Linked DNA regions of Homo sapiens. The protein of the gene in region 1 purifies or fractionates together with the protein of each later gene. This does not show direct contact. Each region holds a gene or a part of one and is shown in the gene's direction. Other genes may lie near its edges.

What was found.
Region 2: the proteins of RIN3 (region 1) and TBCD purify together in Homo sapiens (affinity purification with mass spectrometry, with the first as the bait; one large-scale study listed by BioGRID). This does not show direct contact.
Region 3: the proteins of RIN3 (region 1) and GMPS purify together in Homo sapiens (affinity purification with mass spectrometry, with the first as the bait; one large-scale study listed by BioGRID). This does not show direct contact.
Region 4: the proteins of RIN3 (region 1) and GLUD1 purify together in Homo sapiens (affinity purification with mass spectrometry, with the first as the bait; one large-scale study listed by BioGRID). This does not show direct contact.
Region 5: the proteins of RIN3 (region 1) and ADAR purify together in Homo sapiens (affinity purification with mass spectrometry, with the first as the bait; one large-scale study listed by BioGRID). This does not show direct contact.
Region 6: the proteins of RIN3 (region 1) and SLC25A3 purify together in Homo sapiens (affinity purification with mass spectrometry; one large-scale study listed by BioGRID and IntAct). This does not show direct contact.
Region 7: the proteins of RIN3 (region 1) and PCDHA11 purify together in Homo sapiens (affinity purification with mass spectrometry; one large-scale study listed by BioGRID and IntAct). This does not show direct contact.

Annotation. Positions count from the first base shown.
Region 1 is NC_000014.9:92,516,781-92,520,280, forward strand, and holds part of RIN3 (ras and Rab interactor 3), read left to right. Parts: intron 1-3,500. UniProt on the Homo sapiens protein: Ras effector protein that functions as a guanine nucleotide exchange (GEF) for RAB5B and RAB31, by exchanging bound GDP for free GTP. Required for normal RAB31 function.
Region 2 is NC_000017.11:82,926,269-82,930,687, forward strand, and holds part of TBCD (tubulin-specific chaperone D), read left to right. Parts: intron 1-131; coding exon 132-223; intron 224-917; coding exon 918-1,055; intron 1,056-1,636; coding exon 1,637-1,720; intron 1,721-2,844; coding exon 2,845-3,003; intron 3,004-3,093; coding exon 3,094-3,232; intron 3,233-4,253; coding exon 4,254-4,375; intron 4,376-4,419.
Region 3 is NC_000003.12:155,932,725-155,937,143, forward strand, and holds part of GMPS (GMP synthase [glutamine-hydrolyzing]), read left to right. Parts: intron 1-2,191; coding exon 2,192-2,322; intron 2,323-3,613; coding exon 3,614-3,786; intron 3,787-4,419. UniProt on the Homo sapiens protein: Catalyzes the conversion of xanthine monophosphate (XMP) to GMP in the presence of glutamine and ATP through an adenyl-XMP intermediate.
Region 4 is NC_000010.11:87,091,569-87,096,768, reverse strand, and holds the start of GLUD1 (glutamate dehydrogenase 1, mitochondrial isoform a precursor), read left to right. Parts: upstream 1-1,925; 5' UTR 1,926-1,999; coding exon 2,000-2,444; intron 2,445-2,681; exon of another isoform or gene 2,682-2,790; coding exon of another isoform or gene 2,791-2,836; intron 2,837-4,114; exon of another isoform or gene 4,115-4,187; intron 4,188-5,145; exon of another isoform or gene 5,146-5,200. UniProt on the Homo sapiens protein: Mitochondrial glutamate dehydrogenase that catalyzes the conversion of L-glutamate into alpha-ketoglutarate. Plays a key role in glutamine anaplerosis by producing alpha-ketoglutarate, an important intermediate in the tricarboxylic acid cycle.
Region 5 is NC_000001.11:154,590,831-154,595,249, reverse strand, and holds part of ADAR (double-stranded RNA-specific adenosine deaminase), read left to right. Parts: intron 1-4,419. UniProt on the Homo sapiens protein: Catalyzes the hydrolytic deamination of adenosine to inosine in double-stranded RNA (dsRNA) referred to as A-to-I RNA editing.
Region 6 is NC_000012.12:98,599,267-98,603,685, forward strand, and holds part of SLC25A3 (solute carrier family 25 member 3 isoform b precursor), read left to right. Parts: intron 1-368; exon of another isoform or gene 369-618; intron 619-688; coding exon 689-861; intron 862-1,904; coding exon 1,905-2,015; intron 2,016-2,101; coding exon 2,102-2,262; 3' UTR 2,263-4,419. UniProt on the Homo sapiens protein: Inorganic ion transporter that transports phosphate or copper ions across the mitochondrial inner membrane into the matrix compartment. Mediates proton-coupled symport of phosphate ions necessary for mitochondrial oxidative phosphorylation of ADP to ATP.
Region 7 is NC_000005.10:140,871,957-140,876,375, forward strand, and holds part of PCDHA11 (protocadherin alpha-11 isoform 1 precursor), read left to right. Parts: intron 1-3,284; exon of another isoform or gene 3,285-3,516; coding exon of another isoform or gene 3,517-4,419. Other genes in the region: PCDHA12 (protocadherin alpha-12 isoform 1 precursor), read left to right, coding at 3,517-4,419. UniProt on the Homo sapiens protein: Potential calcium-dependent cell-adhesion protein. May be involved in the establishment and maintenance of specific neuronal connections in the brain.

The DNA of each region.
Region 1 (3,500 bases):
GGTCCCTGATCTGTGATCTTCACTGAAGCTGCAAGTGTGAAAAGCTTGAAATGCCACAGGGCACCCGCATTTTAACCCAGGAGATACAGAAATCAAAACTGGAAACCTACCAGGAATTGATCTCAGCTGGAAGCAGAGAGAGGCATGATATTTGAAGGAGGACACCCAGACCCTTCACCATCCCCTTAGGCCTCCCTGGAGCTCCATTTTGGAGACAGGAGTCTGAGGTGGTCTGTGGTGCCTCCCAGTCCCTTGCCAGAGCAGAGACGGAAAGAATGGGTGACAGATGGCCACAAACTCTGTCTCTGTAACCCCCTGGAAGATTCCACCTGTCATGGCAAGACATGGCAAGCTGTGTCATCTAGGCAGTGATGAGTGAGCACCATTGGGTGGGCAGCTCGGAGGAGGGGAGTGCCTGAGCAAAGGTTCGGGAGGTGGGAAAGTGTGGTGGAGGGGCTTGTGGGGCAGGGAGTGCACCCTTCAAAACCCAGAGGTACATGACACACATTGCTTTACAAAGCGACTGTTATCAGATAACAGGGGTTGAGGAAACGGAAGACAAATTTTGTCTGGGGAGAGAATTACAGAAGAGGGGCAAAAGTATAAAGGGGGCTGCCCACAGAACCCCATCCTTGGGGCCTGGGTCACCTAGGGGATTGGGGGCATCTGTGTGTTCAGAAAGAGCCTTAACATGGGGTAAATGACACCCAAGGCCCCTTAACTTCCTGTTGGCCCCCAGCTATCTGATCCTATTAGGGAGTAACCTTTAGAAGAGAGTGGGGGGCCATGCGTTATCATCTTGTTATTGGGTAATTGATTGGTGCTGCTCTGATGGCCAACTCCAGAATGTCCTGTTGATACAACTATTGCCCCGAACCAGCATTTATTCTGAGAACCAGGAAGTCGAATTTCTCCTGCCCACCAGGAGTGTCTGAAACATGGATGTTTTCCCCCAAGATTGGAGCCAAAGATGAAAATCACAACTTTAATGACTTCCAAACTGGATCTCCCCTCCGTCCTACCCCACAGTGGGCCCTTCTGGTGGTTTGGTTGTTGCCAATCAAGCTAGAGGGACTCTCAGGCCAGGCAGGGAAAGTGGTGTGTCCCCCAACAGCTCCCTAATTGCCCTCAGGTGACATGCTGTCCTATTTAAAAGGTCCCTCAAGAAAGTCCTGCCCTCTGTACCCCAGCCCAGCCCTGCTGGAAGCCAGTGTACAGCTTCACATCTTCTGTCCTCTCCAACGTGCAGAGCTTGTCTGTGGTCTTGTACCTTTGCCCATGAGGTTCTTTCTGCCCTTTTTACAGGGCTCACCTCTTCCATGTAGCCTTCTATCCATGCCAGCTCACAGAGATTCCTCCTTTTTGAATATTCATAGCCTTTTTCACATGAACCGCTTGTTTGCCTAGCAATTTGAAAGAAGCCAAAACCTCTTTAATATCATGACTTCCTACTTCAGTTACAAACTTCCAAAGAAAGGGGTCAGGTCTTTTAGTTCCATATCCTTGTGTCCTACATGCACTTGGCACTCCATAAATGCTTGAGGCCAATGATACGCTGATTGAAGGCTGCACAGCCTTTTCTTTTGTGTCCCTGGAGCCCCTGAATTTCTGGAGGTGTTTACAAGGTGGCCTAGATCACAGGGCGGGGCTAAGTAGGGGGAGACCCAGGGCTTGGGGGGCTAGGAGCCCAACTCCATTCCGCAGCAGCTGGTGACCCCCACCACAAGGCTACCACACTCCTCTCCAAGTCTGGAAAGCAGAGGCCACCCAGGCAATTGAGTAGGGACCCTGCTTGGCCCCAACTCCCCTAATTTTATCCTCCCCAGCTGTGCTCCTGATACTTGTCAGGGAGAAAGGATGGGGGAAGGAGAGGCCAGCCCTGGATACTGTGTCTCAGCCGGAAGAATGGAGAATAGCTTGGTGTACAGACTTGGGGGAGCCCTGGGGCATCAGTGGGTCCCAAATGCGGGTCTCTGGACCACTGAGAAACTGGGAAAATAAGGGTGGCCTGTGTGTGTGTGTGTGTGTGTGTGTGTGTGTGTGTGTCAGCATCAGTGTCAGCCATGGCTGCCAACGTGTCTTTTCTTAGGCAGAACTGTCCTTTGCTGGTTTGGAAGAGGCGTGGGTGTTTGCATGTTGTAGGTCATCAGTAGGGCTAGAGAATCTGGGGTCCTGTCTCCTCTAGTATTTTAGGATTTTATTCTAGGAAGCTGCTCCCTTCCCTCTGGACCTCATTTTCCCATCTGAGAAAAGAGCTCCATGTTCTCAAGGTCCCTGCTCGCTCTGACAGTCGGCTCCCTGAGTTACCAGCTAGCAGGCAACGGAAGCTGGTGTCCTAGAGTAATAGCATTCAGGGGATCAAAGTGCCCATTGGAGCTGAAGTGGCCCATGGAACAGTCTAGAACATGCAGGCACTTTCACAAGAAACAAAGACCCATCCAGGAGACTTTTGGCTCATTACCCTGACCAAGCTACCTGGAAGGAAATGGTTTTTCTTTTTCTTTTTGTTATTGCTGTGGTTTTATTTTGAAAAACCTAGTCTTGAAAAAAGTACATTTGGTTTTGGGAGCCCACTTTGGGGCAGGACCCATGGCTCCTTGCCAAGTGGACAGTGAGCTGGGAAGGTTTCTCAGGCGGGGAGCCCTGGTGTGGCTGGAGTAGCCTCTCGAGGGTGGCTGGGCTGGTAAGGTGGAGCCTGCCTGGCCATCAGCTGTGGGAGCTGTGGAGGTGCTGAGGAGATCGCAGACAGCCGGGGATACGGGGCCTGGCTGTTTAGAGACCGTCTGTGAAGCCTGCCCCTGTCAGGGTTGGAGTCTGAGGGGCGGCCCTACCAACAGAGGATGAGACAGGTGTCCAGGCTGAGGGATGGCGCTCTCTGCCAGGCCTCGGTCTCCCTGCCCAGGGCTGCCCAGAGATAGCCAACGCGTCCCTGTGCAGGTGGGGGCGGCAGTGACGCTGTGTGCCTCCCTCCCCACGCACAGTGTAGTACAGCGAAGCCAGTCCGTCCCTCCTGCCAGCGTGGCCTTGATGGAGAAGAGAGGAGTGACGGGTACATGGGAGGCCTTCCCTCAGCCTGGCGTCCACAGGGCAGTGGGAAGGCATTACTATCTGTGTGGTGTCAGCGTTTATACAAGAGTCTGGAAGCCACCACTGTGTCCTCTCCTCTACTCTCCTGCCAGTAGGGCCTCTGTGCAGCCTTGGCATGTTTCCTCTCCACAGGGGTAGGGGTTGGAGGGACTGCCCCCAAAGCAGAAACAGTGCTGATAGTCAGAAGCTTTGAACATGGCTGCAGAACCCCCTGCCCCAATTTGACCTCAGTAATACCCAGGGGTGCCCCCACCTCAACCAGTACATGTTTAATGGAATGAACGAGCCTGCAATGAAATGTCGGTTCTCTTTTTAGCAGAAATGGCCTAGGCCGTGGTTGTGGTCAAGGCCTGTTGTCTGTAAGTGACGTGACGGCACACACTCAGGCCACATCCTATGGGGTAATGGTGCTT
Region 2 (4,419 bases), on another chromosome or scaffold:
AGGAAGGTGGTGCCAGGAGCTGCCTATCTCATGGTGTGGGGTCTGTGGCTCCGGGCCAACATTGCCACCTCCCTAAAGAGTGCACTTTGTTATAGCTTATGGTTCTTCTGTGATTCTTTATTGCTTTCCAGGTTCTCACAGGTTTAAGAGCAGTTACCCACACTTCCCCCGAGGACGTAAGTTTTGCTGAGTCCAGGAGAGACGGCTTGAAGGCCATTGCGAGGTGAGTCCCAACAGTTCCTCCCTAAAGTCGTAAGTCTCTGAAAGGCCAGCAGATGAACGCTAAGGGGGATGTTTTTGCTCAGAGGCAGGACTTATGATTCTTCACTTCCTAGGTTTCCTCTCTTCCAGAGGATCGTCAGTCCCAGCTGCTGGAGGCTCTTTCATTCTCTTGCTGTCATAGTCGTAGTGAATGTTAAACTTCTTTAGGGACACTGGGCCCCTTGGAGAATTGGAGAATGTGTCCTGGCCCAAGGTTGGCAAAGAGGAGCTGACCCTGCCAGCCAGTGTTTGGAATGATCTCTGCACTCGTTGACAGACACGCACCTGGGGCCACGCCATATGCCCTCTCCTCCCTGCAGGCACACAAGAGGAGCAGTCCCGCGGGGGCCACGCACGCCCCCTTCTCTCCTATGCCAGCATCCGTTCCCTCTAGTCAGGGTGGGAAGTGGGAGGGACCAGCCGCAGGGGGCGTCCCCATCCACCTTTCAACCGGAGAGACGGCAGAGCGTGACCTCGGGGAAGCACGTCCCACGTTCCATACATGTGGAAGGAGCTCTGTGTTTCTGATCTACCCGAGGGTCCTGGACTGTTCTGAGCGTGTCTTCTCAGGATCAGGAACACACATCAGCCCTCTGCGATGTGGAAGATGAGGCTCACCGATGTTTGTTTGTTAGCTCACACATTTTAAATTTCAGGATTTGCCAGACTGTTGGTGTGAAAGCAGGAGCCCCAGACGAAGCTGTGTGCGGAGAGAATGTTTCCCAGATTTACTGTGCGCTGCTGGGCTGCATGGACGACTACACCACGGACAGCAGAGGGGACGTGGGCACCTGGTACGTACGTAGCAGTGGGTGAGCGCTTCTTCTGAGAAGCCCATCTATTCCGTGGAAACTCGGAGGCCCCGGGCTTTTCTGCAGGGAGAAATCTTTGTAGATTTGTGCCGTGTTTTGCGTTTTAAAGGCTCTGGGGAAGATGACCTGTTCTCTGCTCCCGGGTGAGCCTGCGTGGCAGGGCTTTGCAGGTGCTTGTCCAGCCCGTCCTCAGGTGTTGGGCCTGTGTCGTCCTCGTTGACAGGGTGTGAGGGAGGACGCGTCTTCAATGAAAGGCTGCCGGCTGCTTACATTGGGTTTTGCCAACATTTCTTGCTGTAGTGGGATTGATAACCCCTGAAACGCCTGTGTGTGTAGGATGCCTCGGGGCCCCGGTGTGTGTGGCTGTGGGTGGCTCCCTGCACACGTCCCTGTAGCGCACAGGGAACCTCTGCAGGCCCCGTGACTCCCTGGCAGCGTGCCTGGGCTCTGTGTGGGGTTAGTCACGGGTGTCGAATTCACACAGGCTGCCGGCGTGGTGGGCAGAACCAGGGTTGGAACCCCCCTCTCAAGCTGGGTGTCTCTGCCTCTCCTTGTCCCATCAGGGTCCGCAAGGCCGCCATGACCAGTCTGATGGATCTGACACTTCTGCTGGCTCGGAGCCAGCCTGAGCTGATCGAGGCCCATACGTGAGTGTCACGTCGCAGCTCTTCTGCATCCTAGAGGGCAGCCCCGAGCTTGGGGAGGCTGGCGGGGCGGGCGGTCCTGGTGCTCAGTGGCATTTGCACTGCTGGGCACACACCCTCCTCCCAGAGAGCCTCTCTGGTCCCTGACCCCAGGTTTGTGCAGGCCCCTCCTCCTGCCCCCATAGCCATGGCGTGAGCTGGGGCCCATCCTCCTCTGCCCAGTGCCCCCAGGACGAGGCTCTGCTCCCCAGCCTGGGCCTCCAACGGTGCTCTGGCCAGTTTGATGACAGCCAGCTTCCCGGGGTAGGGCCGGGCAGGAGGTGGGGACTTCTCAGCTTAGGACCCTGAACCTGGGGGTCTGCTCCTGCCAGGACCAGCTGAGCCATCACTCAGTTCCCTGCACCTGAGGCTGCCATTGGGGCCTGCCCTTGCTGTGTGTCTCTGTCGGGGGCACGGGGTTGTGGGTACCCCCAGGCCCTGCCCTTTCTGTCGGTCTCTCTGTCGGGGGCACTGAGTCATGGAGGTCCAGGCCCTGCCCTTGCGGATCTCTGTCAGGGGCACTCAGTCAGGGGGTCCAGGCCCTGCCCTTGCGGGTCTCTGTCGGGGGCACTGAGTCATGGGGGTCCAGGCCCTGCCCTTGCTGTCAGTCTCTCTGTCAGGGACACTCGGCCGTGGGGATCCCAGGGCCTGATTTCCTTAGTTCTCACCTCTTTCTCTTTCCCCCTCCCCATCTCTTCCCCAGCCCCAGCTTCTCTCTCCCCATCCCCGGCCTCTCTGTCCCCATCACTCTTCTCCACCCGCTCCTGTAATCCTATTTGTTGTCCCTGCTTCAACCCTAAGACCTCATCAGCACGCATGTAACACGTAGCACATGTGTAACAAGTACGTAGCATGTATTTGCTGCGCACCTGTAGGGTTGGGCTCCTGGGATGTGAAGGTAACGGAGTGTGGTTCTTCCGAGCCAGTGTCCTGGTGTCAGCTGCCAACTCAGCCACCATGTCCCGAGGAGCCCGCATGTCCTCGTGGTGCTTGGGCTGGAGTCACGGCTCGGACCGCCTGTGCTCAGTTTACCGCCCGCTCTTAATTTACCGCCCGCCCTTGGTTTACCTCCTGCTCTCGGTTTGCAGCTGTGAGCGCATCATGTGCTGTGTGGCCCAGCAGGCCAGTGAGAAGATTGACCGTTTCCGTGCTCACGCCGCCAGCGTGTTCCTGACGCTCCTGCACTTTGACAGCCCTCCCATCCCCCACGTGCCCCACCGAGGAGAACTGGAAAAGCTGTTTCCCAGGTACTGTCGGGGTGTAGGCCCCCCGTGCTGGCCCCGCAGCCATGGCGAGATCATTGGCAGCCCGGCCTTGTCTCACTCACTCTCTTGCAGGTCCGATGTGGCCTCCGTGAACTGGAGTGCACCTTCCCAGGCCTTCCCACGCATCACCCAGCTCCTTGGGCTGCCCACCTACCGCTACCACGTCCTGCTGGGGCTAGTCGTGTCCCTGGGCGGCTTGACGGAGTCGACGGTGAGGAGGCGTCGGGCTGGCTGGGGCAGGAGGTGGCTCCAGGAGTGCCTGGTGCTTCCCTGTCTCTTGGGAGCATGTATGGAGCTGGGCCTTTTCTTCCATTGCTTTCTATCTCTCTCGGGCATATTTGGTTAGGGGGTCAGGGGCCCAGTGTCTTCCTCATGACCCAGGAGGCTTAGGGCCTGTGGGATGGTTGAGTCTGATGAAGGTGGGACAGGGCCAGCGCCACTCTCTTCCTGCGGCCGCAGCCTTGGAGCTCCCAGCGTCCCCTCGGGGTTCAATCCTCCAGGACCTGTGTCTGATGCCTGCATGTGGGTACCTGGGCTCCATCAGGTTCTAGATCGGCCTCCGCCCTCCACTTTCAGGGCTCCAGGCCCAGCTTCTCATGTCTGTGGGGAGGGTCTCCAGAGCCTTGGTCTGTGGCTGAGCTGTGGAACTTGAAGGCCTCTCTGCATCTTGTCACTCGTGGCCCCTGCACCTTGGGTCATGACCTGCTTTATGTGGCAACCCTGTGACAGCTGCTAAGTCCTAGAAAACACGTAACAGGACGTGAGGTGCCCTCTGCGCCGTGTGGGCGCGTGCGGGGAGACCCGGGCCCCAGGACGTGAGGTGCCCTCTGCGCCGTGCGGGCGCGTGCGGGGAGACCCGGGCCACATGCGAGCGGGGCCCCGAGACATTCTGCACTCGGGAATTGCGGGGATTATCAAATCCCGCTTCAGTGGGAAACGTGAGCGAAACCCAAGGTGAGTGGCCGCAGCCTTTCGTCACGTGCTCTCCCGCATGTCCTAAGTGAGGGCTCAGGCTGAGCTGCCGTTGCCGAGAGCCTTGTGTCTGCTTCGGGTGTCTGCACTGTGAGTGGCTCCGTGCTGGCGTCCGCACCAGCCGCTTGGGGCCAGACCTTCGCGTCTCTGCAGCTCGGAGCAGTTCTGCTCTTCAGCAGATGCTTGACCGGCTGTAGCCAAGCCTGAGGGGTGGCAGGCTCGGGGGTCCCACTGCCTTCTGAGGTGTCTCCGTGTTGCAGATCCGGCACTCCACCCAGAGCCTCTTTGAGTACATGAAGGGCATTCAGAGCGACCCGCAGGCCCTGGGCAGCTTCAGCGGGACCCTTCTGCAGATCTTTGAGGACAACCTTCTGAATGAGAGGTGAGTGGTGTCTCTTGGGGCCTCAGAGGCGTGAGTGGTGCTGG
Region 3 (4,419 bases), on another chromosome or scaffold:
CTTACCTTTTAATGTTAAGCTAGCAGAGTCTGTATAGTTCGAGATAAGGAGTTACAGGGAAGCCATGTTTTTACCGATGGGAACATGCTCATTCAAAGGCTTACTCAAATGAACTGAAAACCGTCAAATACAGAAGCATCTTTAAAATGCTGAAAAATAGAATTATTACTATCTTCAATAATGGGGGCCAGGCATGGTGGCTCACGCCTGTAATCCCACCACTTTGAGAGGCCAAGGCGAGTGGATCACTTGAGCCCAGGAGTTTGAGACCAGCCTGGGCAACATGGTGAAACTCCATCTCTACAAAAAATACAAAAATTAGCCAGGCATGGTGGTGTGTGCCTGTAGTCCCAGCTACTCGGGAGGCTGAGGCAGAAGAATGGTGTGAACCCGGGAGACAGAGCTTGCAGTGAGCTGAGATTGCACCACTGCACTCAAGCCTGGGCGACAGAGCGAGACTTCATCTCAAAAAAAGGAAAAAGAAAAAAAAAAGAATCTTGGTGAACTTTAGATTTATTTGCTGGGGTCTTTTTGATGAATTGGAGTTTAAAAATATTCTTCCCTGTTTGCCGGTTTTTTTCCTAATTTGGATAAGGGAATCTTTGTACAGGGAGGGACTGTTCCAGTTTTACTGTCATATATAGTGTGGGTAAATACCTGTCCCAGTACACTCTAGTGATTACTTTTGTTTGTAAGAAATGAGAAGGTGAAAAGAGCAGGTTCATGGCATTCTCTTAACTTTCTCCTGTAAAGATCTTTTATGAACTTTAGGAACTGTATTGTTTAGAAAAATTATAACTTACTGTCTATACGTGGGACAAAAACCTTGCTTCTGTTGTAGTATGTTTGGAAGGAGACAATAAAGTAGTTGGTGATACCGGTGGTTTTGTGCTAATATGGTTTTCTATTGTGTATTTTACCTAAGTACATATTAAGAAAAGAAGAAAAAACATTAAACTTTACCATGATAGTTTCCGGGGAGATTTATTTTCTTTGCTAAAAACAGGACTAACGAAAAGTGAATAGGGAGAACTAGCTAAGTGGCACTCATATCTCTACCCTGATTCCCTCTTGTTTTCTGGGTGAAGATTGTGAAACAGATCCCTTCAAACCAGTGGCCAGCTACACTTCAAGTTGTTAAAATTGTCTGATTCTAATTTCCTCAAGTTATGTTCCAAACTGTACTCTCATTAACTCAAGATATTTGTGGTGTATCTTCATGTCTTTCAAACAGACATTTATATAAAACACTAATGAATCATTTTTTTGGAAGGAAGTAGTAGGATACTAAGTCCTATTTCAATGGCCTTTTTAATGAAGTGCAAATGAGAATCTCTCTAGAATGATTGTTTCTCAAGTAGAGAAAAAAAGATGAGTTTACTAATTTTGGGAAATTCACTGTAGTTTCCTCTTGGAGATTTCCAGTGCATGTTAGCATAGTATATTAATAGTTTCTGAAGTCTTGTCATAAAGACACCTATTTTTAAATTTTAATTGTGTATTTGTTTCCTAGGACTACCCATAACAAATCACCACAAACTAGGAGGCTTAAAACAACAGACATTTATTCTCTCACAGTTTAGGAGGCCAGAAGTCTGAATTCAGTGTTGGCAGGGTCATATTCTCTCTGAAGACTCTAGGGGAGGATCCTTCCTTGCTTCTTCCTACTATCGAGTGGTGGCAGCATAGTCCAGTCTGTCTTTGTGTTCACATGACCCTCATTCCCCTGTGGGTATCTGTGTATCCAAATTTCCCAGCACTTGGAAGGATACCAGTCATTGGATTAGAGCCCATCCTAATCCAGTATTACTTCATTTTAACTTGATTACATTTGCAAAGACCCTTTTTCTCCCCAGAGATTCTGGGTGGGCATGAAGTTTTGGGGATACTCTTCGACCCAGTACATTAAGTGAAAAGAGAGTTGTAATAATCACTTATATCTTTGCACATTCTGAGATACAGAATATTCCAGAGAACACACTTTGAGGAAAACACGTAGAACACAGACCTTCCTATAATCTTATATCTTGTCCTATCCATCTGGGGAGTTGAAGTGGGCAGGAGAAGGGCCTGAAACTAAGTGGGAAATGGAAAGAATGTTACTGTTCTAAGTGCCTTGCTTCTCATACTAAAATGTAATTTCTACATTTGAAATGTAATTGCTGTATTATTTTTACCTCTTTGTTTCCAGAGTTGTTTATATATTTGGCCCACCAGTTAAAGAACCTCCTACAGATGTTACTCCCACTTTCTTGACAACAGGGGTGCTCAGTACTTTACGCCAAGCTGATTTTGAGGCCCATAACATTCTCAGGGAGTCTGGTAAGTTGCTCATGTTTTTGATTACTACCCTCTGAAACTAGTTTTTGGAAGCTTGATATTAAGAGTAGGAGGATGTGGCTTTTGCTTTTTAGATGCTTTTGTTTTTATTATTTAAATCTTTGAATGTTCTATGATGTTGCTTTTTTTTCTTGAGACGGAGTCTGTCTTGCTCTGTCGCCCAGGCTGGAGTGCAGTGGCACAATCTTGGTTCACTTCAGCCTCTGCCTCCTGTTACAAGTGATTCTCCTGCCTCAGCCTCCCGAGTAGCTGGGATTACAGGCACCCGCCACCACACCTGGCTAGTTTTTTGTATTTTTAGTAGAGATAGGGTTTTGCCATTTTGGCCAGCTGATCTCGAACTCCTAACCTCATGTGATCAGGTCAGGAGTCAGGTCAGGCCAGCCTTGGCCTCCCAGAGTGTTGGGATTACAGGCGTGAGCCACTGCACCTGGCCTATAATGTTGCTTCTAAATAAAATATATTCCCCTTTGTGGCCATTTGTGGACATGCACAGAGCAGCAGAAAATTTGAATTTCCAGACTTAGATGTTCCCAGCTGAGTTTGAACAAGGTGACGCTATGCCTTCTTGTTTTCAGCTCTCATAATGTGAACAAGTCTTTTTCATGGTCTCCTTGATGCTATATCTTTTGCATTTTTATGTCTTTTGTTGGTGATTTTGCTGTTTAAAATGGATCTCAACTATAGTGTTGAAGTGCTGTCTGGGTTCCTAAGCACAGGAATGCTGTGATGTACCTTACAGAGAAAATCTGTGTGTTAGATAAACTTCATTCAGGCATGAGTTAAAGAGCTACTGATTGTCAGTTCAGTGTTAATGAATCTATAATAAATATTAAATACAGTGTCTTAAATCAGAAACACATAAAACAAGGTTATATATTAATCAGTTGATGAAAATATTACAACCAGAGGCTTGCAGGAACCTAACCCTCCATTTCCCCTGGGAGAAATGGTTCAGTATTCGCTAATTCGTTGTTTGCAGTGTAGAATATAACTATACTGCAAATTATAATAGAGAATAATGAGACTGGACTGTTTCTGTTTACAGCACATCAGTGAAACATCACTGATGTGATCAAATTCTGTTTTTTGCATTTGTGATTAAGTCCATTTAAAATGCTCTGCGAGTAGCTGAAATCAATGCATGATGACAGTCTTAACTACGCTGTGTGTGTATATGTGATTTCAGATATTGCCTGGGAGGATTTAATTGAACTGAGTTAGAGTGCTTTTCTATGGTGTGGTGATTGGTTCTACATATACCTTTCTCTAGGGTATGCTGGGAAAATCAGCCAGATGCCGGTGATTTTGACACCATTACATTTTGATCGGGACCCACTTCAAAAGCAGCCTTCATGCCAGAGATCTGTGGTTATTCGAACCTTTATTACTAGTGACTTCATGACTGGTATACCTGCAACACCTGGCAATGAGATCCCTGTAGAGGTAATTTATATATTTTTTTCTAATGCACGTTCTCAGTACCTCTTACATTTTATAATATGGTGAATGGAATAGGCTATGCCAGTGCTGTATTTCTTATGTTGGTTTTCTGTTCATAAGATAGGCTTTTTTTTTTAAATTTTCACATATTTGATTAATACACTGGGGCAGAAAAAGGCTTTAAATTATATATGCTCTCCAATTGTGTGATTACTGTATAAAAAGTAATTGATTATAATTTTATCTAATCCTGCCAATTTCTACTTTACAAACAGTATTCCCCAAATAAAAAAGAAAACTCTAGGAGTGAAGAAGAGTTTGTTAGAAATAAGGATGCAATTTGATAGCTTTATGGCCAGACACCCAAGAATTGCCTAAATGTTCTCCCTACTACCAATTCCAACTCAATTTTTGATCCTTCTTTGTCTTCACCAGAACATTCCAAAGGAGCTACTTGCATAATAGCAAGTGAAAATCAAAGTGAGACTCTATTAGTTGGGCCACTGCCTCCAGTGCACTAACACGAAGCTGTCGTGATAGCTAGGTAGATGGGTTGGTTCGGAACGTGGCTTAGAGTCATTTTTCTCTTAGGCTCAAATTTGTCAAATTTGACAAGTGAGCAGGCTATCCTCTCCT
Region 4 (5,200 bases), on another chromosome or scaffold:
CGAGAACTAAGAACTTTCTCTTCCATATTCTAAAAGATGAATAACATGAACATATCGGGAAGCACCATCGTTTTGCAGGTCCAATGGGTGTCATTTTAAAACCACCCAAGTACACTGAGACCGCTAACGCTAGTAATGTGGTGTTTGGCAGCTAGTTTTAATGACTGTCATTAGAGCTTTATTTTTTATTTTCTTTTTATAGAGACGAGCCCAGGCTGGTCTTGAACTCCTGGCCTCAAGCGATCAGCCTGCTTTGGCCCCCAAAGTGCTGGGATTACAGGCGTGAGCCACCGTGCCAGCCTCGTTAGTTTGAAAAGCACCAAAAGCTATCCATAGGAATGTGAACTTTAGCATTTCCTATCAAGTATGTATAAATACATAACTGAACCCTCATACAGCATAAAGCTTATAAATCATATACTGAGGCCAGGCGCGGTGGCTCACGTCTGTAATCCCAGCATTCTGGGAGGCCTAGGCGGGCGGATCACTTGAGGTCAGGCGTTGGAGACCAGCCTGGCCAGCACAGCGAAACCCCGTCTCTACTAAAAATGCAAAAATTAGCCGGGCGTGGTGGCGCGGGCCTGTAATCCCAGCTACCCCGAGGCTGAGGCAGGAGAATCGCTAGAACGAACCCAGGGAGGTGGAAGCTGCAGTGAGCCGAGATGGTGCCACTACACTCCCGCCTGGGCGACAGAGCAAGATTCCATCTCAAATAAATAAATAAAATAAAAAATAAATCATATACTGAACCATTTAACAAATACATATATTCCTGAGAAAGAATTTCCTGGGGGCATTATCGCATTTCTAGTTTCCTTATTTTAGACTATTTCAGAGGGAGATAGGGTCTCCCTCTGTTGCCCAGGCTGGGGTGCAGTGGAGCTATCGTAGCTCACTGCAGCCTCGAACTCCTGGGCTCAAGCCATCCTCCAGCCTCGACCTCCCAAAGTGCTAGGACTAAAGGCGTGAGCCACCGCGCCGGGCCGGAGCCTCTGTCTGCAAAGGTGAAGCAGTCAGTACTGTGGGGCGACACAACCACGACGTGCGTAACTATGCGATCTCCACACTGCGGAGCAGTTGAACGGGACAATAAAAGCTCGCGTGGTGAGAGCTTGTGGGCGAGTGACTCCCTTCCAGCTCACGCCAGCCACGCATAATCCAACTCCGGGTGCCACGCCGCTCTCTGCAGCCCTGGCTGGTGACGCCGAGCCCTCAGCCCGGCCTTACGCGGCGGCGGCTCTGCCTCGCTTTCCTGCCCACGTGTCAGCCCCTGCACGCCCGGCCCCGGCCTGAGGCCGCCAGAGGACAGGCCAGGGTGGGCCGCCCGTTCCGAGGGCGCGCGGGCGGAAAGGAGGGGCGCCCGTGACTCACATGACCCGGTCCCCGACCAGACCGCCAAGCCTCACCCACGCGGCGCTCGGGGGGACTCGGCCTCTGAGCGCCCTACAGAGGCCAGCCCCCGACCCCGACCTCCCTGGGCTACCCCCAACCCCCCTGAGGGACCCCCGCGGCGCACATACCTGAGAGCCCCGCCGGAGGCGGGTGCGGCCTCCGGGCAAATCCGGCCGCCCGTGGGCCCGCCCCGACCCGCCCCGACCCGCCCCGACCTTCCCCTCCCTGCCCCTCCCGTCCGTTCCCCTCCACTCTCCTCCCCGCCCTTCCTCTCCCCTCCCCTCCCTTCCCCACTGGCGCGCGAGCGTGCGCGCCGAGCCCGCCCGCGCCTGCGCGCCCCCGACGCCCCGCCGGCGCGCGCTGCCGCCAGCGAGGCCCGGGGAGGCCGCGGCGGAGGCGGAGGCCCGGCGCCCTGGGCGGCGCCCTGTCCCCGAAGTCCGTCCTCCCCGTTAGGTGGCGAGCGCCCGAGGGGAGGGGACAGCCGGGCAAGCAGGAAGCTGCGGCTTAAAAGGGCAACCCGCGCGGGACCCTTCCTCCCTAGTCGCGGGGAGTCTGAGAAAGCGCGCCTGTTTCGCGACCATCACGCACCTCCCCTCCGCTTGTGGCCATGTACCGCTACCTGGGCGAAGCGCTGTTGCTGTCCCGGGCCGGGCCCGCTGCCCTGGGCTCGGCGTCCGCCGACTCGGCCGCGTTGCTGGGCTGGGCCCGGGGACAGCCCGCCGCCGCCCCGCAGCCGGGGCTGGCATTGGCCGCCCGGCGCCACTACAGCGAGGCGGTGGCCGACCGCGAGGACGACCCCAACTTCTTCAAGATGGTGGAGGGCTTCTTCGATCGCGGCGCCAGCATCGTGGAGGACAAGCTGGTGGAGGACCTGAGGACCCGGGAGAGCGAGGAGCAGAAGCGGAACCGGGTGCGCGGCATCCTGCGGATCATCAAGCCCTGCAACCATGTGCTGAGTCTCTCCTTCCCCATCCGGCGCGACGACGGCTCCTGGGAGGTCATCGAAGGCTACCGGGCCCAGCACAGCCAGCACCGCACGCCCTGCAAGGGAGGTGAGCGTCGGCCGGGCCCCGTCCCGCCCTCCCTGCCTCCCCTGCGGCCCTCCCCTCCGGCCTCCTGCCGGTGCGGGGCCGCTGCTCAGCCCAGCCCAGCCCAGCTGGAGCGGGCCGGGTCCCCGCCCGGGTCACCCCGCCTCGGATGTGGCCGGCTCTGTGGATGGTGATTTTTCCGCCTTAAAATCATCATGCGATTGGCCTGCCCCCTCCCCCGCGCCGTCACCCCGGGCCTCTGTATATGCTGATCTTGCATGCAGAGTAGACGCTGCACCGGTCTCCTTTTGGTCCCGGTGTCTGTGTCACACACGGCGGGTCCTGCCGAAATGCACTTCTAGGAAAGGGAATGACCTGCCCGTGTGATAATGCCTCGTCAGTGTTCTTGGGCTTTTGTGAGTCTCCCCTAAATGCAAGCTGTCAAATTATTTTCTGGTATTTGTTCACTCCTGTTCCAATAGTGACAGATGATATCCGAACATAGAAAATGACTTGGCTTCTAAGTTTGAAATCTAGACAGTTTTATTAACCAAAGGAATTTACTAATCACGCGTTAATCGTTTCAATTAAGTAATTTTCCCATTCTGACAAGTTCTGTTTTATACCAAAAAAAAGGAAAAACACAAAAAAATCACAAGCAATGTAATATCTCTGACAAATAAACACCTGGCGTCCTGACAGTAAATTTACAGGTTGTAGGCTGCGGATGGCCAGCCAGCCAATGGAATGAAATAGCTCTGGGGGTGTGTACTGGTCCTGGCTAGCCCTGAATTTGAGCTTCAGGAAAAATATAGTACGTGAAGAAAGGGGTCAGATAATGTTTGGTAGTCACTGGGTTATCCTGTGGTTTAAATCATTTAATGTCTGTAGATTTGGCCTCTGTAGTCAGATTGCTTTCTTCGAGCAAATAAGAGCTTTTTTCCCCCCAATACATTGCATCATACCTCTTTAGTAACATAAAATGGAAAGGACAAACCACTTTTGTCTACTGTAAAAAAGAAAAATTATATGGAATAAAGAGCCCAGGGAGGCGAGGAGTCTTGTTGGAGGTGGATTGGCTGAGAAGCACAGAGGATGTTGGGCTAGACCCATGTCTCAGTAAACCTGGTTCTGTGGTCTTTCAGTTATGCCCGCTGACTTATGAGGATTTTTAGAAATCCTCTCTGTACCGGAAAAAACTTGAGCGGTGCTGGTGTTCCCAGCAGGGGGGACAAAGGTTGTTTTTAAAGATTTACTAAATTTGCATTGACCCCGCCCACTTCTAGGACTTAACTTTGGAGCTTAATTATCCCCTAGCTCTGGTTGCCTCAGCCAAAACCAATGTTTGAACCACTTTGACCTCTGATTTCCTTTCTAGCTTCAAAATTGTATAAAATGTACACACCGTCAGTCTCCTACATTTGCCTGCCTTCTTCCTACCACTCCCTTATTATCCAAACCAGGAAAACAAGTTCAGACTCCAAAGAAAGGCAAATAAGGATGTTGGAGGAAGTTCAGGCAATGTTTAGCAAATATTGAGTTGCATCGTTTTCTTAAAACGGACATCAAGTTTATTTTTTACTATCTTGCTGGCAGCATTTGCCAGTCCTTTAAAAGGTGTACAGATAAATCAGTGTATGTGGTTTTCTGCAGGATGATTTGGTCTCTGAAATCCTTTTTCTTCGATTCTTCAGATGCCCAGCTCTCTCCTGTTTTTATAAGTCGCAGCTCCGCAAACTCACTGAAGCAACTCGTTTACCATAGTTTGTGAGTCCTCTTTCTCTTGTTGCCACAGCAGTTTTAATGCCAAAATATTGAACCTAGCAACAAATTGGGTCAGCCATACCAAAGCACTGTTACTGTAGCACTTGCTTGTACTAGAGTGTAAGATACAATTTTCTGTTCCGTTTATCCCATTTACAAAAAAACATGCTATTAACCCCCAGCATATAAACAGGGAGAAACTGAATTGTTACTAGTAAACTGTTGCAAGCATTGATAGAACATCAAAGAAAATTGGCCTCTACAAAGTGACAAATTTATTATCTTCAGGAATTTGAAAGGCTTTCTGGATTGGGGAAGATTACATAGCTATGAAAGCCCTTAAATATTTTAGTTTGCTTAATAAACAGTATACTAAACAGATGATCAGCAAAATTTGGGTACTATAGCCTTCCATGCTTTGTGTTCAAGACATCCCCAGATCTATCTACCCATTTATCACCCTTGTTTGCAGAGAATGTGCATTGTAAGAGAGACAGGTCTTCTTTCTTAAAGCTTTTTTAACGTCTAAGAAATTGTTAACCTTTGTAGTCCCACTCTAGTCTTAGAAACACAGAATATATTAGGTGATTGAGATTTTTTTAAATGCTTTGGATAATCCCTATGAAATTCTGTCTTTCCCTCTTAAACATATTTTAACACGTTCTTCTTACCTCTCCCCACTAACCTGTCTTCTCTCCCATTGGTTCTTTGCCAAAAAAAAAAACCTCATCTGCCTCTCTCCACCCTTTTACCAACCTTCAGCTTTCTGTATCTCATTTTCCCTCAAGAACAACCTTATCCCTGAGTTTTCTAAATTAAAATTCTTGAGGTTGAAGCAAAGCAACAATCTAGCAATAATCTCTAAGGGAAACAGATGGTTATAAGACTTGGTGGCTGATGTGTACTTTTTCCAAGTAAATATTTAATAATACACACTGTTTTTGTGCTTTTCTTTTCCCAGTTACTACATGTACCTGAGGCCGTTAGATTTGTCTGTGTTAAGGATTTGAAAGGGT
Region 5 (4,419 bases), on another chromosome or scaffold:
TAAAAATATAGTAAACACATAAGGAGCGTGTAGCCTAGATCCCTCGCATTCACAGTTCACAGTCGAGTTCACACTCCTACAAGAATCTCATGCTGCTGCTGATCCCACAGGAGGCGGAGCTCGGACCAGAATGCTTTCTTGCTCGCCACTCACCTCTTCCTGTGTGCCCAGGTTCCTAACAGGTTACAGAGCCCTGCACTTGGTGATAAGAATTTTTCAGCTCCATCATAATCTTACGGGGCCCCTGTCATATGTGTGATTTATCATTGAACAAAACACTGTTATGCAGTACATGACTATACCAGTTTCTTGAGTCCTTCTAGAAATTGCTGTGCATAACTAGCACATTTTCCCTTTTGTCTTTTTAAACAAGTATATCTTCTGTTTTATACGTTGACTCCTTTACTTACCAGACTTCTTGCATAGCTGCATAGTATTTCATTGAATAGAAGCTGACAAATTCAGTTTCTCAGAAGTAAACATTTAATAGGGACTTAGGAACAGAAATGATGTCTTGGGTGGCTGCAAGATGGTGGATCCCTGCACTTACCCTCCAGAAAGTATGCTTTCTATAGAGGCTTTTTTGGTTAAACATGCAGCTGGTCACACATTATACTTTCTTGTGAAACTTATGAGCACTAGCTGGTGGGGAGGCTTGGTAGACATCTTTGTGTGGAATTATTTATGCTACCCAACACTTTGGGATGCGGGAGTCAGATATTGGTGGTCATAGTGGTTTTGCATCAAGATGGCATCACTCTTGCCATGCAACCGGCATGTTTTCTTAATCTCTAAGGTCTATCACAAAGTGGAAAAGCAAGGTGTAAAGTGAGGGGAGAGGTGAAGATTGTCTGTATATGTCTAGAATATTTTCTTGAAGGATCGAAAAAACTGGCAACTGTGTTTGCTTCTGGGGAAGGAGGGACACTTTTATTGTACACTCTTAACTGTTTGAATTTTCACATGTTTGGCATCCAACTTGTCCATTTTAAAGTCATTAAGGAAAAAAGCTTATAAAAATGCTATCTTGTTACTTTAAATTTGTCTCTCCTTAATAGAAGTAATGTCAGCCGGGCGCAGTGGCTTACGCCTATAATCCCAGCACTTTGGGAGGCCGAGGTGGGTGGATCATTTGAGCTCAGTAATTTGAGACCAGCCTGGCCAACATGGTAAAACCCCATCTCTACTAAAAATACAAAAAATAGCTGAGCATGGTGGTATGCCCCTGTATGCCAGCTACTCCGGAGGCTGAGCAGGAGAATTACTTGAACCCAGGAGGCGGAAGTTGCAGTGACCTGAGATTGTGCCACTGCACTCCAGCCTGGGTGATGGAGTGAGACTCCGTCTCAAAAAAAAAAACAAAAAAATCAGAAGTAATGGCATTTCATTTATTCATATTTATGTGTTATTTGCATTTCCTTTTCTGTGAACCACCTGTTCTTGTCCTTTTCCAGTTTTCTTTCAGATTGTTACTCTCATGGATATGTAAGAACTTTTAACATAATTTTTAAAAGTAGCCCTTTGCCCAACATGACCCAATTTAGAACACACATCTGCCCACTGTTTAAGCCATCTGGAAAAGGAGAGGCCCAGTCTCCCTCCAGCTGCTCTTCTACTAATTCATATCCTTCATCTCAATAAGCACCTCCTTATCTTTAAGCACAGTCCTTCAGATGATAGGTTCAGTGCATTTCCTCTTTCTCTTCTGTGAAATCTTCTGTGAAATCCTTTCTAGGACTTCAAGTCAGCCATTCATTGAGAATGTAAGAACTTACTATGAACTAGATGGAAGATACAAAAAATTGCTGCCCCTGAGTGTGTAGCAGACATATAGCCATAGCAGTATTGAAATGTGCCATTGGAGGTGAATGCAGAGTGCTGTGGGGACACAGAGGACACTGCTGCCACTGTCTGCCAGGGAGCTGAGGAAGGTTGCATAGAGAGGGGAAATGCTAATTGAGTAACTACGTTTATTAACTATCTCGTACAATAATATACTTTAGTTGCTTCTTAATGTGAATTATGCTGGGTCTTTTTTTCCTTTCTGTCTACTGTGGCTGGTGACGTTAACTAATTTTATGACTTCTTTTCTGTTTTTTTTTTTTTTTTTTTTTGGAGATGGAGTCTCACTCTGTCACCCAGGCTGGAGTGCAGTGGCGCAGTCTCAGCTCACTGCAACCTCCGCCTCCTGGGTTCAAACAATTCTCTTGCCTCAGCTCCTCGAGTAGCTGGGATTACAGGCATCTGCCACCACATCTGACTATTTTTGTATTTTTAGTAGAGACAGAGTTTCACCATGTTGGCCAGGCTGGTCTTCAACTCCTGACCTCAGATGATCCACCCGCCTCAGCCTCCCAAAGTGCTGGGATTACAGGCATGAACCACCGCGACAGCCATGACCTTTAATATCTAAATGCTGGAGACCACTCAGAGCTCCCGATTCCTCCATCTAGTTGCTTACTTGTCACCTCTGTTTGGATTAACATCCCTAATATGACATGTCCAAAGCAGAACTCTTGGGTTTTGCCCCCTTCGCTTCATTTCCCCCAAGTCTTTCCCAGCTTAGTAAGTGATACCACTGTCTACCCAGTGGCTCAAGTCAGAAACCTGAGGATCATCTTTTCCTCTATCTCCTTTACCTCCTTCGTCAACTCATCCTTAAGTCCTATTGGTTATACTTAGAATTTCTATCCCAAATCCCTTCCTCTTCTTTCCACCTCCAGCGTCAGCACTCTAATCCAAGCCACTGTCTCATCTAGACTGTCACAATAGCCTCCTAACTGATCTTTATACTTTATTTACTCAACACTTATTTATGGAGTATCTTCTATTTTTTTTAGAACAGGAACCAAACATTAACCAATAGTCACCTAAAGAAATGTAAGATCTCATATTTGATAAGTATTCCAAAGGGCTGGAGTTGCAGCGAGAATCAATTATAGCACAGTTTGACTTAGGAAGGAGAGGGGGAAGGGCTTCCCCAAGAAGTACTGCCTGAGCTGAGACTTTAAGGATGATGAAGAGAGAAAGACTGAGGGTTCTAGGCGAAGGACACTGTTAAATCCTGTGGTGGGAGAAGCGCAGAGCTGGCAAAGAGGCTGAGAGGAGGCACTTATGGCAATAGCCCCATTTGGCTAGTGGCTACCATATTGGATAGCACAGCTCTAAAGGATTCTAGTTGCATAATTAACAAACTTTATCATATATGTAAATATATCAGTATAAAACTTTGCACGTAAGAGTTCATATTCTTTTCAAACACATGGGGCAGTCATGAAATTCTCCTGGATCCCTGAGGTAAAGATACTACACAATCTGTCCCTCCTGACCGCCTTCACCATCTTCTTTTCATGCCACTGTCCCTCTCATTCTGAACTTAAGCCCACTGGCCTGCACGGGCCTGCCAGCATGGACAAAGAAAAGAGTGAAGGCATTTAGTTGCTTCGGATCATCAAGGAACAGTGAGAAACTCCATGTGGTTGAACATAAACGTTGATTCCTTTTACTGCCTGAGCTGCTAAGTCTTGAAACTGAAGCCTCTGTTATATGCAGTTAGAGTATCCAAAGCTGGGTTCTCAGCCAGTAGATTAGGATCTGGTTGAAAGCTAGGATTCTTGATGCCTTGTCTGGTACATTTCCAAGCTGTTTTGCTCCACCATGCTCTTCCCTCTGTGTTTGGAAATTACCAGCCGGAGCGGTAGAAGCCACCTCCCTGCTCCACTTGGGCACTTTATTGTCAGCGCAGCTCATGCGCCCAAGATCCATTCCTTACCCCAGAGTTAGCTTAAGCCTGCCAGGAGTCAAAAAAACAACTCCCAGCAAAACCTGGGTCCCTGGCCTAAGGCCGACCTTGACCTAATGACCTCTCCAGGTCAAGTCCCCTTGAGCTAATAGGAAGTAAATGAGGGAATGGAGTTGGGCGCTTTAAAAATCAGACAGTGTATGAAGTAACAGTGACTTGTGGGGAGAAAGGTAGTCCCTTCTGATTTCTGCTTAAGAAGAGAGTCCAAGTTGGTGCTAGCATTTCGTTAAGCCTTCCTCATACTTCATAATCTTCCTTTATAGTAAGGACAGGCTCAGAGCCTTTGCAGGTAACAGTATCTAGTCAGAATTTTATAACATGATTTTATCATATTCTGTTTTACAGCCACCTTCAATATGTGGCAAGTGATACTGGTTTTCCATTTACAGTAGTGAAACAAAGTTTCCTATTTCAGTGTGTTTACATTTTTATCTCTTTTTTCATACCTAGTATTACGGATATTTACATTTTTAGAGTCTGTTTGTTTATTTTAGAGATGGGGATCTTGCTGTCTCGCGCAGGCTGGAGTGCAGTGATATGGTCATAGCTCACTGCAGCCTTGACCTCCAGGGCTCAAGTGATCCTCTCACCCCAGCCTCCCAAGTAGCTGAGACTAT
Region 6 (4,419 bases), on another chromosome or scaffold:
GGTCTCGAACTCCTGACCTCAGGTGATCCACCCGCCTCGGCCTCCCAAAGTGCTGGGATTACAGGCGTGAGACACCGCGTCTGGCTGTGAACTTCATTTTTTAGTATTAAGCCTACCAGACTTTTTAAAAAGACTATTATAACATTTAATGTCTATTTACCTGTATGTAGAACATAAACTTGAGAGGTAAAGATAAGTTAATACATGGTTTGAGCCCTGGACTGAGTTTTTTTTTTTTCCCTAGAGTAAGGACCATTTGTCGGTCTACAAATGACTTGATGTTTGGCCTAAACATTTACTATTAACTTTTAGGGAGGGCTTGTTAGTATCCTTGTGATCTATTCACAGTTAAGAATTTCCATGACCACAACATGCTTCCTTAGATCCACCTTTGTGGATGAATCTTGAACTGAGTTCCACTTGTAAACTTCTTGTTTCTTGTGGTTCCAGTAGTCAAAGAAACATCCAGCAACTTTTTTGGTTGTATAGTCAAAGGTGCTTGAGTCATTGGCATGTAAGAGAAATATACCTGCATGTTAGTCTAACGTTCTGATAGAAATGACATGCATTTATGCTGCCATTTGTTACTATCAGGACTCGACTCGTGTGCGGACATTTCTGTTAATAATGACAGTCTCTGATAGATGAGTGTATGCAACTGTGTAAAACAAGTCTCTTGATTTCCTAGATTCTACAAGGGGGTTGCTCCTCTCTGGATGAGACAGATACCATACACCATGATGAAGTTCGCCTGCTTTGAACGTACTGTTGAAGCACTGTACAAGTTTGTGGTTCCTAAGCCCCGCAGTGAATGTTCAAAGCCAGAGCAGCTGGTTGTAACATTTGTAGCAGGTTACATAGGTACGAATTACTTAGAACACACTTGTCTGAAATTATGAACAAATAATCATTTCCATTATTGGCGTTTTTTGAGAGGGAAAAATACTCCAAAGGTTATAAAGCAGTGTTTTTGTTTTTTTGGTTTCCCTGAGGCATAGTCTCGCTCTGTTGCCCAGGCTGGAGTGCAGTGGCATGATAATAGCTCACTGCAACCTCCTCCTCCTGGGTTCAAGTGATTCTTCTGCCGCAGCCTCCCAAGTAGCTGGGACGGGCATGCACCGCCATGCCCGGCTGATTTTTGTTTTTGTTTTTTGTTTTTTTTTGAGATGGAGTTTTACCCTTGTTGCCCAGGCTGGAGTGCAGTGGTGCAATCTTGGCTCACTGCAGCCTCCGCCTCCTGGGTTCAAGCGATTCTCCTGTCTCAGCCTCCTGAGTAGCTGGGATTGCAGGCGTCTGCCACTACGCCCGGCTAATTTTTAGTATTTTTAGTAGAGACGGTTTCACTATGTTGGCCAGGCTGGTCTCAAACTCCTGGCCCCAGGTGATCTGCCTGCCTTGGCCTCCCAAAGTGCTGGGATTACAGGCGTGAGCCACCGCGCCTGGCCTGATTTTTGTAAAGATGGGGTTTCACCATGTTGATGAGTCTGGTCTCAAACTCCTGACCTCAGGTGATGTGCCTGGCCTATAAAGCAGTTTTATCTTCCCATAACATTTTATATGCTTTTTAGGATTCATAAATACTTGCTAACTAGTTCCTAAAAGGGCTGTTTCATGGGATGTCATTATTAGGCTTGGGAATGTATTGATCTTACTGTTGCACCATTTTTTTGTTGTTGTTTATTAAGAATTTTATACAGAAAGTGTTGAATAAAATCTGAAAAACTTTAAAAGATTGTTCCGTTTTACATAGGATAGACAGCTTGATAACTGTACCCGTGTCACCCTGAGTCTGATTTTTATTTTAGAACTAGAAAAATATTATTTTAAAATCATAAAAATGATTATTGGCTCTGTGAAGTTTTGTTTTTAACTGGCACTGTATGGGATCCTTTATCTTTTTTCAGCTGGAGTCTTTTGTGCAATTGTTTCTCACCCTGCTGATTCTGTGGTATCTGTGTTGAATAAAGAAAAAGGTAGCAGTGCTTCTCTGGTCCTCAAGAGACTTGGATTTAAAGGTAGGATGATGTTTTTTTCTTGAAAGAAAGAACAACAGTTTTGGATATGTTGCATTTTTTTCATTTGCTTTTCCTGTTTGAACCAGGTGTATGGAAGGGACTGTTTGCCCGTATCATCATGATTGGTACCCTGACTGCACTACAGTGGTTTATCTATGACTCCGTGAAGGTCTACTTCAGACTTCCTCGCCCTCCTCCACCCGAGATGCCAGAGTCTCTGAAGAAGAAGCTTGGGTTAACTCAGTAGTTAGATCAAAGCAAATGTGGACTGAATCTGCTTGTTGATCAGTGTTGAAGAAAGTGCAAAAGGAACTTTTATATATTTGACAGTGTAGGAAATTGTCTATTCCTGATATAATTACTGTAGTACTCTTGCTTAAGGCAAGAGTTTCAGATTTACTGTTGAAATAAACCCAACTCTTCATGATTTGCCTGTGACTTATTTTTAAAACTTTTTTAAAAAAGATTTAGCTTTAAAATAGTTGGAAAGAATGAAGTATATAAGTTAAGGAAAAAATACAAAACTGACCATGACCATTGTTGGTTGAATATTCCAGTTGCTATTCAGAAATTGTCATATGTCTCAAGTTTTATCACACAAAGTTCCTGTATTTCTAGGGAAGCAGACTTTAAATTTCTAAAAACTTGATTTAATTATAGTTAAATATGTGTAGTCATTTGTGGTTATTTTGGCAAGTAAATGTCAGTGTATACTTACATTTTTGCAGCATGTACTACACCTTTTTTATGTTGGTGAGTTTGCTAATCCTTATTTGTAAGACAAGGTAAACCAAATTAGGCTGATTCTTAGAATGACAGTAAAGGACCAAAGTGATTGACAGCTGAAAACAATTTTCAGGTACACTAATTCTCTTTACACAGATCTGACTTTTTTTTTTTTTGAGACGGAGTTTCACTCTTGTTGCCCAGACGAGTGTAGTGTCGCGATCTCGCCTCACGGCAACCTCTGCCTCCCAGGTTCAAGCGATTGTTCTGCCTCAGCCTCCCAAGTAGCTGGGATTTCAGGCATGTGCCACCACGCCCAGCTAATTTTGTATTTTTAGTAGAGACGGGGTTTCCCTGTGTTGGTCAGGCTGGTCTCGAACTTCCAACCTCAGGTGATCCGCCCGCCTCAGCCTCCCAAACTGCTGGGATTATAGGCATGAGCCACCGTGCCCGGCTCTGACTTTTTACAGAAAATTGAACTATTTTCAGTCTGGTATTTTAAGAAAGGTACTGCTTGACAGCTGAACTATATGAATGCCACTGGGGAAAAAGCATTCCATCATACTTAGATACGAGATTGGATTGTAGGTTTAAGCCCATTTTTAAAGAGCTCCTAGAAAGTGAATTAGTTTTTGTGTTTAGATTCCCCTTAAGTTTGATTAGGAAGTGTATAAAAGTTCAATCTTTTGTAATGACAGCCCACCACTGGAAAAAAAACGAAAAACCTAGTGTAATATATAACATGCTGTTTTTCAAACACTAGATTTTACCTAGAGTCCTTATGTGTAATACGTGGGTTGGTTAACAGTCCCTACGTAAAGCGTACAGATGGCCTGGAGAGAAAAACTTTTTCAGAGATTGGAGAGAAATGTTACTACAAACTCATGGTAAGGTCAGTGAACTCAATTTAGAAGCCAGTGCAGCTAGTTGCATGTTAACTTCTTTATATCATCATTGCCTGAACTTGTTAAAGGTTCCAACATTTTACCTGTGCTGCAGGAAAAAAGGAAAAGTTGTAGGTACAAATTTGGACCAAACTTTAAAAAGGTAAAGTAGGATGTCTTCTGAACCCAACCAAGTGGTGGCTGTGGTGCTTAGCAGTATCAACTGTATATTATTTCTTGCTATGTTAGCAAAGCATCCAAAGATCAATGGTGTATGATAAGCTTTTCTGTGGGTGAAGAACTCGGGAGTATCAGACTCTTCTGGTTCTGAGTCTCATGAAGCTTTTCACTTCTGAGCTGAAAGGATGCTCTTTGTGCTTTTCACTATTAGTGGTATAGTCTTTCCCGAAAATCTCTAGCATGGTGGCTTCAGGGCAGCTGGACTTAGGTGGTATTTTGGGGCTCCAGGAGAGCTTGGCAGAGTTGGCTTTTTAGGACTTATCCTTCAATGTCACATAACATCACTTTTACCATGCTCTTGGTTACAACAGTGATGTCTCAGAAACCAAGTCCCAGATTGAGGAAAAAAGGAACATAGTCTCTACCTCTTCCTGAGAGGAAAGTCAGTCAACGTGTAAGAGGAGCAGTAGAAACGCATTAGTCCAGCCAACGTGAAAGTGGACCGTAGATCTAAAACATTTTGGGTATGCAGTTCAGCCAGCCCTTACTGAGGCAGTTCTGCCAATCAGGATTCAAGTTTTATTTCCTAAGAGTTATAATAGGTTTTATTTGTG
Region 7 (4,419 bases), on another chromosome or scaffold:
GGAGGTCTTCCTATGATGTCCAGGTTGGACTGCAGTGGCTATTTACAGGTGACCTGTAGCCTGGAACTGCTAAGCTCAAAGAATTCTCCCACTTCAGCCTCCAGAGTAGCTGGGAATGCAGTGCCACTGCACTTAGTCCATTGGCTTTCCTAACTTCAGGCTTGTATCAAAGCTAGAATACTCCATTAGTATGACATGATTTACTTTTCTTTTTTTTTTTTACAGTGTTAAACGTTCATCATAAATTCATTATATATGAAACAATCTTTACTTTTGTCTTTATTCCTGTGATAATACTTGTTTTCATATTGTTTGAAGAAAAAAGTTAAGCCTTGCATTCTTATATGCTGCTTTATGGAAATAATATGACTAAAATTCTACATGTTCTTGCCAGGCAAAGTGGTTCAGGCCTGTAATCCCAGCTATTTGGGAGGCTGAGGCAGGAGAATTGCTTGAGCCCAAGAGTTCGAGGCCTGCCTGGACAACATAGCGAGATCCTGTCTCTATAAAAAATTAAAAAATTAGCCAGACCTAGTGGTGCATGCCTGTAGTCCCAGTTTCTTGGGAGGCTGACATGAGAGGATCCCCTGAACCCAGGGGTTCAGGGCTGCAGTGACCTATCATCGTGAGACCCCCATCTGAAAAAATAATTTTTTTTGCCTGTTCTTGATTTTGTTCCATGAAAAGGCAAGAGATTTGTCAACTATTGGATACTCAAACAAAATGGCATGATTTATGATTCCAAAGGAAACTAGGTAAATAAAATTATTCAAATTATCTAAACTTGCTAAAGACATGCATATAGGGCTATATTATCTATAATATATGCTAGTTGGCATTCTTCCATAAGTTTTTCAGATTCATCTAGCAGAGAAAAAATTAAATATATTAATGTGAGTACCTACTGACAATTATCAGTTTCATTCATCTCACTTTGTAACTGCTCTATCTTGTAATGCCTTATCTCTAATGTTTTTGAAATTTTCTTTCCACGTAGTATCATCCCATCTGAAGATTTGAGCAAAGATCATTTACTTCTGAGTCATTCTTCATATTTAGTTATTCTTACTACACGTAGAGTGGTGGTATTACAGACTTTCTTGAGAATCATATCTAGCTATTTCCCCCCCGTATAGAGGCATAACATACCATTTGGCACAATATTCAAAGAGTCTATGCTGAAGCCTATTCATAGACTTTAGATCGAGAGCTTTTGTATCATAATATTCATTGGCTAAAAACATTCTTTAAGTATTAAAGAGAAGGCAACAATATAAAAATATAAAATATTTCAGACTCAAAAGTGATTAAACCATCATACCACTTATGAAACTTTATAAATATAATAAAGGTGAATATTAGATAGGGCATACATTACTCATCTCCAGATGAAATTTTTGGAATAACTGAAGATCTTTTAAAGACTTGGGAATGTTTTCAGTACAGGTTAAAATTTTGTAAATTATTATTTTATATCACATAAATAACAAATTTGCATTTTAGATAATTCAAATTACTTGGACTGATTTCTGCAAAGTTGTGTCTTTTATACTTAATGCCAAGATTGCATTCTATGGTATAAAATTATAATTTCAATTTATTTTCTAGTTTGGTTGTTTAAGTATTAAGCTAAACTTAGATGTTCCTATTGGCTTAACAATTTGTTTAGGTCAAAGAGTATGTGAGAACTACATAACACACTATTATTATTTGTTTCTTTTTGAGATAGAGTCTTGCTCTATCACCCAGGCTGGTGTGCAGTGGCGCAATCTCAGCTCACTGCAATCTCCACCTCCCATGTTCAAGCAATTCTCCTGCCTCAGCTTTCCGAGAAGCTGGGACTACAGGCATGCACCACCACTCCTGGCTAATTTTTGTATTTTTAGTAGAGATGGGTTTTCACCATGTTGGCCAGGCTGGTCTTGAACTCCTGACCTCAGGTGATCTGCCTGCCTCAGCCTCCCAAAGTGCTGGGATTACAGGTGTAAGTCACTGAGCCCAGCCTATTTTTTAAAATTAAAGTTCCTTAGCATGTATGGTACATTGACCACTTTTGAAAATGAAAAATAGGAAAGAAACTTGGTGATGATATTAGACAATTTAAATAATTAGCCTGATGACATCAAAATTCAAATATGTTTTTAATTACTTAACGTTTTATAGTTTATTTAAGTTATCTTATACTTGTAGAGCCATTCTTGGTTACTCTTTCCTGGTGTTGTAAAGGTGTCATATTTCAGTTGCCTTTATTATTATATGCAGTAGGAATGAATGGCAACAAATTATTGGTTTAAAGATTTTGACTTGAGTATTAATAGACTTACAAAATCTATGTGTACTTGTTCACAATGAGTTGTAGGATCTTATCTGTTTTTTTCTCTTAAAGCTGATCTTGAATTAATGAATAAACTCATGAAAGGTCTTTTGATGCCCCCTTGCATAACAGTCACCATTCTGATTTTCTGAAGAGAAGCATGTCCTAACTACTAAATGACCTGTAGGGGAAGATTTAGAGAAAAAGCAAAAGGTTGATATCAAGTTCACATTCTCTTGACTTTAGTCAATGAGATTAGGCTCCAAAACCCTTTAAGAGATCTTTCGCATTTTAGTGCTCCATTGTTGCTTTGGGATAGTGTGAAATTTGGAGGCTTCAACTAAACATTTTACATTAAAGTGCTTTACTTTTGCTAGAGTAAAACTTTCCAGAATCTATTCCTGAGATTTGTTTTAACATGTTATGGAAATGAGAGCAGTTATGTGAAAAGTTATCACATTCAAGCATCAAGGAACCAAACAATAACGCTCTCCATATTTATGATGAATTCTAACTTTCATCAGATTTATGAATAAGACAATTTATATAAATGAAATATTGTTTGGTATTAGACATATTTTAGTTTCTTATCCTTTGTTAAATACAAATTCCTAACTTTCTCTAAAATCTTACGATGGAGTGCTTGTGAAGGTTAAAAGTTATTGAAACAGCGGAATTGTAAGCTATATAAGGGGAGGGGTGCTGTATATTATTCTGTATATCATTTTCCATGATAAAGTGTAGGTTCTGGCCTACTGTATTTGAAAGATTTCTACTTTGAAGCAGAAAACATTTTTAAGCTACAGCGTAATAAAATTGTTGATGTTTTGTTACTAATATCATGTATATTAACTAAACCCGCATTTATAAATGATCCGTGAAAAATAACCCAAAGTCGAAACATTAGAATTAAGAGTGACCCAGGAAGTGGCTAAACCGAAAAGAACCTCAGGATCTTTCTTGTACTTACATAATCAGTCACATGATGTCGCTCTACACTCAGAAGGTGAAACAGGAAAATTTTTTTCTCCGCACCCACATTCCAATCATTCACGGAATAGGATCGACTCCATAATGACTGTGATGCTGGAAAAAATTTACTAAATATGTACTTACAGAAAAGGGTGACTGCTCATAAAATACCTCAGGCAAGCGATCCCTTAAAACTGATTGTCCCAACTCAGAGGCCCTCATTTTCTGCAATGGTGATTATCGGACCAAGAGGCCCGGGATCCCAGCGTCTGCTGCTCTCGCTTCTGCTCCTTGCAGCCTGGGAGGTGGGGAGCGGCCAGCTCCACTACTCCGTCTACGAGGAGGCCAAACACGGCACCTTCGTGGGCCGCATCGCTCAGGACCTGGGGCTGGAGCTGGCGGAGCTGGTGCCGCGCCTGTTCCGGGTGGCGTCCAAAAGACACGGGGACCTTCTGGAGGTAAATCTGCAGAATGGCATTTTGTTTGTGAATTCTCGGATCGACCGCGAGAAGCTGTGCGGGCGGAGCGCGGAGTGCAGTATCCACCTGGAGGTGATCGTGGACAGGCCGCTGCAGGTTTTCCATGTGGACGTGGAGGTGAAGGACATTAACGACAACCCGCCGGTGTTCAGAGAAAGGGAACAAAAGGTACCTGTTTCTGAATCTGCGCCTCTGGACTCTCATTTTCCTCTAGAGGGCGCTTCTGATGCGGATATCGGCGTAAACTCTCTTTTGACCTATGCGTTAAGTCTAAATGAGAATTTTGAGCTTAAAATAAAAACAAAAAAAGATAAAAGTATATTGCCTGAATTAGTTCTTCGGAAGTTATTGGACAGAGAGCAAACGCCAAAACTCAATTTATTGCTGATGGTAATCGATGGCGGTAAACCAGAACTAACAGGGTCTGTCCAGATTCAAATAACCGTCCTGGATGTGAATGACAATGGTCCGGCGTTTGATAAGCCCAGCTATAAAGTAGTGTTGTCTGAAAATGTCCAAAACGACACAAGAGTGATCCAACTAAATGCTTCCGATCCAGACGAAGGACTTAATGGAGAAATTTCCTATGGGATCAAAATGATTTTGCCAGTGAGTGAGAAATGTATGTTTTCAATAAATCCAGACACAGGTGAA